Homo sapiens: one gene and its partner. The protein of the gene in region 2 purifies or fractionates together with the protein of the main gene of each other region. This does not show direct contact. Each region holds a gene or a part of one and is shown on either strand. Other genes may lie near its edges. The genes, in order: RAB8B and MPC1.

The links.
Region 1: the proteins of MPC1 (region 2) and RAB8B purify together in Homo sapiens (affinity purification with mass spectrometry; one large-scale study listed by BioGRID and IntAct). This does not show direct contact.

Annotation. Positions count from the first base shown.
Region 1 is NC_000015.10:63,262,446-63,265,611, reverse strand, and holds part of RAB8B (ras-related protein Rab-8B), read right to left. Parts: intron 2,921-3,166; coding exon 2,870-2,920; intron 2,086-2,869; coding exon 1,993-2,085; 3' UTR 1-1,992. UniProt on the Homo sapiens protein: The small GTPases Rab are key regulators of intracellular membrane trafficking, from the formation of transport vesicles to their fusion with membranes.
Region 2 is NC_000006.12:166,365,941-166,369,771, forward strand, and holds part of MPC1 (mitochondrial pyruvate carrier 1), read right to left. Parts: intron 3,022-3,831; exon of another isoform or gene 2,793-3,021; intron 1,245-2,792; exon of another isoform or gene 1,029-1,244; intron 952-1,028; coding exon 855-951; intron 167-854; coding exon 34-166; intron 1-33. UniProt on the Homo sapiens protein: Mediates the uptake of pyruvate into mitochondria.

The DNA of each region.
Region 1 (3,166 bases), on a different chromosome or scaffold from region 2:
AGCACTTATCTTTTAGAAGGTACTTTGTTACCATCCAGAAAGCGTTAACTGCTTGGATTTTTTCAGGAAATAGTGAATATTAAGATGTTTCTAAAAAATTATCTTTTCCTTTTGAAAATGTATCTAATTTGAAGATAGTAGAATTACAATAAACTTTCAATCACGGAACTACTAATTATACTAGAACAGCAACGAATGACTTTTAAGCCTATAGGTAATTACCAAAAAAAAAAAAATTAAGGAGGCTGAAATTTGTCAACAATAAGTTTAGTATATCTATTAAAAATAGCTTGGGCATATTTGCAGCTGCTAAATTGTTCCTATATTTTCAAATAAGTACAAAAGATTGACTGGTCCAAGCATTCTAATGACATATCTTAATTTGAAGAGAATTCTCTGTGGTAACAAGCAATCCCTTTCCACTGCCATCTCCTGTTCTTATCTATCCAGCATGATAGTAGCCTTTGTGAAGCAAAACAGGCATACCAGGAAGAATAATTATTAACAGAATTCATTTCCCTCATCCCCTCTGTTTTATCCCCCCTGTGTTATGACACTGAAGGCTAGAGCAACAACGACATAGTGATCTGAATTTGGCACACAAGTTAACACTAAATACCTTGTGATGGTTTCATCTACAAAAGTATACCAGTACCAGTGTTTGTTGAGAAAGGCAACTAAGCTTTTGGTTGGCTTTAGCCCAAATGACTGGACTAAGTTCTGTAACAATGAACCAAAACAGATGGAACTGGGTTCTACACAATCAACAACAGCTGTTTGAAAACTGAAACCTTGGTCCTGTTTTCTCTAATGAAAAGGCAAGACTTTTCCTAGAGGCTGCACTAGGTCTAAGTACTTTTATTTCTAAAAACATCTGCCAAATAAAACCAACCAAAACTCATTATTTTCACCATTACCAAGAGCTAGCTCTATTAAATTTATATCAACAAGTTAATCTGTCTCTATATAGGGAAGGTTTCCGCAAACTAAAATCTAAACCTAACTTTTGTAGACAGGGATTATGGTAGGAATTTGGTATTACAACTAAACCAGCCAGCTAAGGAGTGAACCTAAGAAAAAATATATTACATATCCTTATTGACAGAATCACAGTTAGATGCTGCACTAAAACCCTAAATGGTATATCTCTCAGCCCACGTAAAATTTCAGCTCAAGAAGTTCACAAATAGAAACAGATAATAATGTTCAAATATTACTTAAGAGTGATTACACTTAAGTCAAACATGGGAAAGAATAGCAAATACAAACCCCAGGGAAAAATGAGATTATGGTGATTTCCAAATGCAGTTTCTATAGATTAGGCAGAGGTAATCATTTTAAAGTGATTCATTCAGCTACCCAGACTCTGGAAAACAGGTCGGGGATGAGGCAAAGCTCTTAATCTGAAGAAATAAAGAAATTGTGGCCTTTGATGACAAGATGGGCATTTCAGTAAATTTTTTTAATGACTTTAATGATTCTTATTTAAGAAAAAGCCCTTAAATAAATGCTACCAAGGCAGTAATATTTGACCATATGAACCAGACCAAATACCCTTTAATTTTAGTATATTAACCTCTGCTGTAAATGCTCTTTTAACATTGCCACATGTACAAATTTGTCTAGAACTTCACGACACAAAAGTGTGCAAATATGAGTCTAAGATTGTGCTGAAATAGGGAAAGGCTAACACTGATGTGCAAAGTAAAAAAGAAAGATAACCGCTTCTGCAACAGGTAATAAAACAAGGAAAAAACGAGTTAGGTCCTGCATGTGTCTCCACTTCATTGCTTCCATGTTTGAAAAAGGGAGTCTGTTCTTTTGCTAGGCCATGAGGCTGGAATCCACTTGGCATACTGTGTTGAGAGGTCTAAGTTCAGTGGTGCTCTCAGCAGCAGCCGGGAGGTGTGATTCTGAGGCTGGGTGACCTGTGCTTTCAGAGAAGCAGGAAAGGGCCCTCTAGGTGTGCTGCAGTCTCTCAGAAAGAGTTCATCAAAGTAGCGAGCAACGAAAGAAACTGGTCTTCTTTGATCGGTTTTCTGTTATTTTCACTGGTCCACCTGCTCCTGCTGAATTGCTGTCATTCTAAAAAATAGAAGATGAAGTTACCAAGGAAATAAAAGTTTCATGGTTTGACCTCAGTTACCTAAAAAATAAAAATAACTAACCATACCATGTGAAATGTGTATTCTAGTGAAATGTGTATTCACTAGAGTATTTTATTAGAACGGGAACTAGTTAAGCACCAATGTTGTCTTTTTCTTTGGAAATGGTGAATTGAAAAGAGGAAAATGCCCTTACGATAGCAGCTTTTATATCAATAATGTATTCAATAGGAAGCTTCTATTTCTAGTTCCAATGGAGTGTAAAGTTTCAAAGGTAATGATGGAAACAATGTTAAGATACTGGCATAGACAGTTCTGTTAGAGGTAAGAAGAGTTAGTAGCATAAGGTACGCAATTATAGTCAGGACTCAGGATAAAACAAACTTTCAAGGTTGTCTTAATGATTTCAAATTTAAGCAAACTTTAGCAACTTCAAAATCGTAGTTATGCAGATATAAATACCTGTCACATGAAAACTGAATAATTTTATGGCAAAAATCGAATTTGTGCCATTATTATTTTCATTATTCTCATCAAAATTCAATTAAAGATCACTTAAAGAGCCAGAAGAAAGGACTGAAACAGTGGCAGCTCAGAAATAAGAATCCTAAACAAACAGAACTAAGAATCAGAGTTCAACCAAATGAGTATCTGAGTCAGGAAAAAAATGAGTTTAATTTGAGTATCTTATAATTAGACCTATCCTTTTCATCAAATGCCAAACAGACAGCATAATGGAAATAAAAATTATAAGTGATACAAACCATTTTTCTGTTGAGTTTTGTCATTATATCTCGTGCAAGTGTAAAAAATGCCTATAGGTAAAACAAAACATTTTCATTATTATATATTCACTATATATATGTATATATATATATATACACATATATATATTCCCCCCGCCTCAGAGATGGGGTCTTGCTATGTTGCCCTGGCTGAATTGGAACTCCTGGGCTCAGGCAATCCTCCCACCTCAGTCTCCTAAGTAGCTGGGACTACAGGTGTGAGCCACCATGCCTGACTTATTTTAAAACAGAAATACAGAATTTTTCATTATTTCA
Region 2 (3,831 bases):
GAAAAGAAAGTAACTAAATTGAAATCTGCTTACTCGTGTTTGATAAGCCGCCCTCCCTGGATGAGCTGGGCTACTTCATTTGTTGCGTGGCATGCAAACAGAAGCCAGTTCCGAGGCTGTACCTTGTAGGCAAATCTCATGAATGTCAAAGAATAGCAACAGAGGGCTGCCAAAAATAGCAGAGCAAAGACAATCAATAACTTAGAAAACTGAGAGGGTTGATAGGACCACAGAGATGAACAGTTCCATTGCCCTGATCAAAAAAGAACCTCTTCTGCGAAAGCCTTTGACAGATAAAAGTTGTTACTTAAATGCCTGTATCAATAGGAAGCTCATAAAAAAATTTACTGTACTGCTATGCATTTTTGTTAATTATTTAAACATTTAAGGAACATATTTCCGAGCAAGAGTAGGCTGAAATTTGTTCTAGACACTTTTTTTGTCTCCTGGAGTTGCTTATAATCCATTCATTATCTGAAAGAATTGTTATTTATTCCCTCCACAATAGTTTTATGTTCAAATATCAGGGTTTCAAGTCAGTTTAATGACAGTTTCCCCCAAAAAAGTTCACAATATAAATCATTAAAGTGACTATTAGAATGATTCAGATGACACAGTCTTCAGTTCAGTGTGCTAAATCTGAAAGGCAAATAAGATGTTACTACTTCCTAGATAAATATTTCTAATTAATCTTGTTTCTTACTGACATAGAGAAGTAACACTCTTCCATGCCATCACATTCTGTATGTGACTTTCTAATAGTGACTGTAACATCTAGTGCTACAATCTTGAAATGCAAGCAGGAGCTCTACTATGTTGAAAGTCCTCCCAATTATCCAAATCTGCATTCTTACCAAATGTCATCCGCCCACTGATAATCTCTGGAGACTTTTTCATATCATTGATGGCAGCAATGGGAAGACCCCAGTTGGCTACTGGGCCCCAGAAGTGCTACAAAAAATGAGAGGAAAAGAATGAAGAGAGGAAAAAGTTAAGACAGAACTATAAACAGCTGAAATTTCCCTTACTTTAAATAATCACGTGAAACTCGTGAGAACAAATCTTCGTTTCCATCTTGCAGGTTTACTGGGTTAATTGATGGTTAACATTTAGGTATTGGATTGTCCAAGTGTTCCTGTAGGAATCAGCAGTTCTTACAGCTGAGCCCAGAGCTAGAAAGGGTTTGGCAGCTTCCCAAGGTCCCTACTGGTTTCCACACTACAACCAAGTCATCTCTGATTGTCCTATTTAGAACATTTAAAAATAAAAATAAGATTCACTTCTTACACAATCCATTGTTGCTATAATTCAAACCCTGTTAGAACTATTCTCCATATTTTTATGTTTAAATCTATCCACACTCCTTTTCCCAAATTTTTATGAAGATATTTGTTAATAATTCTTAAAATGCAGACCCTAAATTGGGTACTTTTCTGAAGAAAGAAGCTTAATAAGAGAATAAATTGTTTTTCAGCTCATATGAGCTATTCTAAGATAAAATAACTTGGAAATCAATGCCCAGGACCCCAGACACTAAGAAATTAAGATTGGAAAGTACTTTTGACATAATAGCAAAAACTTATATTAATATTAAAGAAATGAACCAATAGTTTTTCATTCCACAACTACACTCATCCAAGGATACCAAAGTGAAGTCGTCTGTGTTTGACAGCAGCCACAATCAATTTAATTTTAGAGGCTGAAATAAAATAAGGCTTGTGGCTTTTGTTCATTAAAGATGAAAAATTGTTTCATTAATTTAGAATTTGGAAATAATATTTTCAAATCTGAAAGGAACCACATCTTGTTGGCTAAACACCCCTTTTAGTTATCCTAACACTAAAGAGTAAAAACAGTCTTTGCTTGACTTCTGCCTATCATAATGTTTAGGTTAAATTCAGACTTTGCTTCTACTATTGACGAGGGGTTAAAATCCAAAGATTCCCTAAAAAGTGGTAAACCAAGGGAAATATAAGAAAAATAAATGGGAATTAGATTTGGCATAATAGAATATTTAAAAATGTTTATTTAACATGAAAGCCACAAGGTCATTTAGATAACTACAAAAGGTCAAAGTTCCCACATAGCCATCACCATAAGTATTTCAGGGTTTAACATGTGAGTTATAAACTCTGTAAATTAGGCACAGTTGGTTTAAAGAATCTTGAGATTCTGGGCTGGCTAATTAGTTATCTTGCATTCAGACTGCATGTTATCTAAGATACTCACTACTGCAACTTTCACTTAATTTCTTACATTTAGACGAGGTGACTAGTGGCTCTCAAATTGGACAGCAAGGCTTTGGAGGAAATATTTCTTTGAAAATGACAAGTTGGGTCGGGTGCAGCGGCTCACGCCTGTAATCCCAGCACTTTCGGAGGCTGAGGCGGGTGGATCACGAGGTCAGGAGTTTAAGACTAGCCTGGCCAACATGGTAAAACCCTGTCTCTACTAAAAATATAAAAATTAGCCAGCGTGGTGGCAGGTGACTGTAATCCCAGCTACTTGGGAGGCTGAGGCAGAGAACTGCTTGAACCCGGGAGGTGAAGGTTGCAGTGAGCCAAGATTGCACCACTGCACTCCAGCCTGGGTGACAGAGCGAGACTCCGTCTCAGGGAAAAAAAAAAAAAAAAAAAGAAAATGACAAGTTGGAGAGAAGTACACTCCTGCAGAATTCTATTAACAATGACCCTTAATTTCTTACATTTAGATGCAATATGGCCAGTTTTCTTTTTTCCTTATTCCCCAGACTTTTGTAAGGGAGAGTATCTATCTCTCCCTTACCTACTTACTTCTTTTCTTACCCGTCCTGTTATTGGGTGTCACTTCATTTTTCAACTCTCTATTATTCCATAGTGATCTTCCTTTTCCTCCTTTTTTGACCAGGCCTTTCTCCACTTGGTCTATTTTCATCTCCTTTTCCGTTTACTCTCTTGCCACTCCTCTGCACTGTATGGTGGTGTTGCTGTCTACTTTATCATGCATGAACCCAGGGCTATAAACAGAGCCTGAAGAGTTATTCTAAGAGGGGCATATAAACCACAGTTTCTCTACCACTGGTTGTGAATGTGTCTTCTTTCATAGGTGGGGCTAAAGCAGAAATGGACAATGGAATAAATCTAAACCTAAAGTAGCCTTGGGAGATTCCTGGCTAAGTGATGTTATTAAAAGTTTAAGTATGGGCCGGGCATGGTGGCTCACACCTGTAATCCCAGTACTTTGGGAGGCTGAGGCAGGCGGATCATGAGGTCAGGAGTTTGAGACCAGCCTGACCAACATGGTGAAACCCCGTCTCTACTAAAAATACACAAATTAGCTGGGTGTGGTGGCTTGCACCTGAAATCCCAGCTACTAGGGAGGTTGAGGCAGGAGAATCGCTTGAACACGTGAGGCAGAGGTTGTAGTGAGCCAAGATAGTGCTACTGCACTCTTGCCTGGGCAACAGAGCAAGACTCCATCTCAAAAAAGAAAAAAAATTAAAAAAATAAAAAGTTTAAGTGTGATGAGTGTTAGGTTATAGGAAACAGTTCTGCAAGTTAAGAACTATACATACACTTATGACTGTAAGTGTTGAGCTATACTGAAAATATGTTTCTTAAGAAGAACACGAAAGGTAAAAATCATTTTAACACTAGTTTACTAAAATACCTAACCTTAGAAAGTTTATAATGCATCTTTTCTATCTAGTACAATATTCTAGTTCTCTCTTCCCTTTTTTAGAATACAATTGATTTATGCTGTCAGATATTCAGCAGTCAATTTTGAGAAAAATAAGGAACTTTATTAAAATTCAAAAAGAAATTAACATATGTTGGATTAAATGGAAAACAT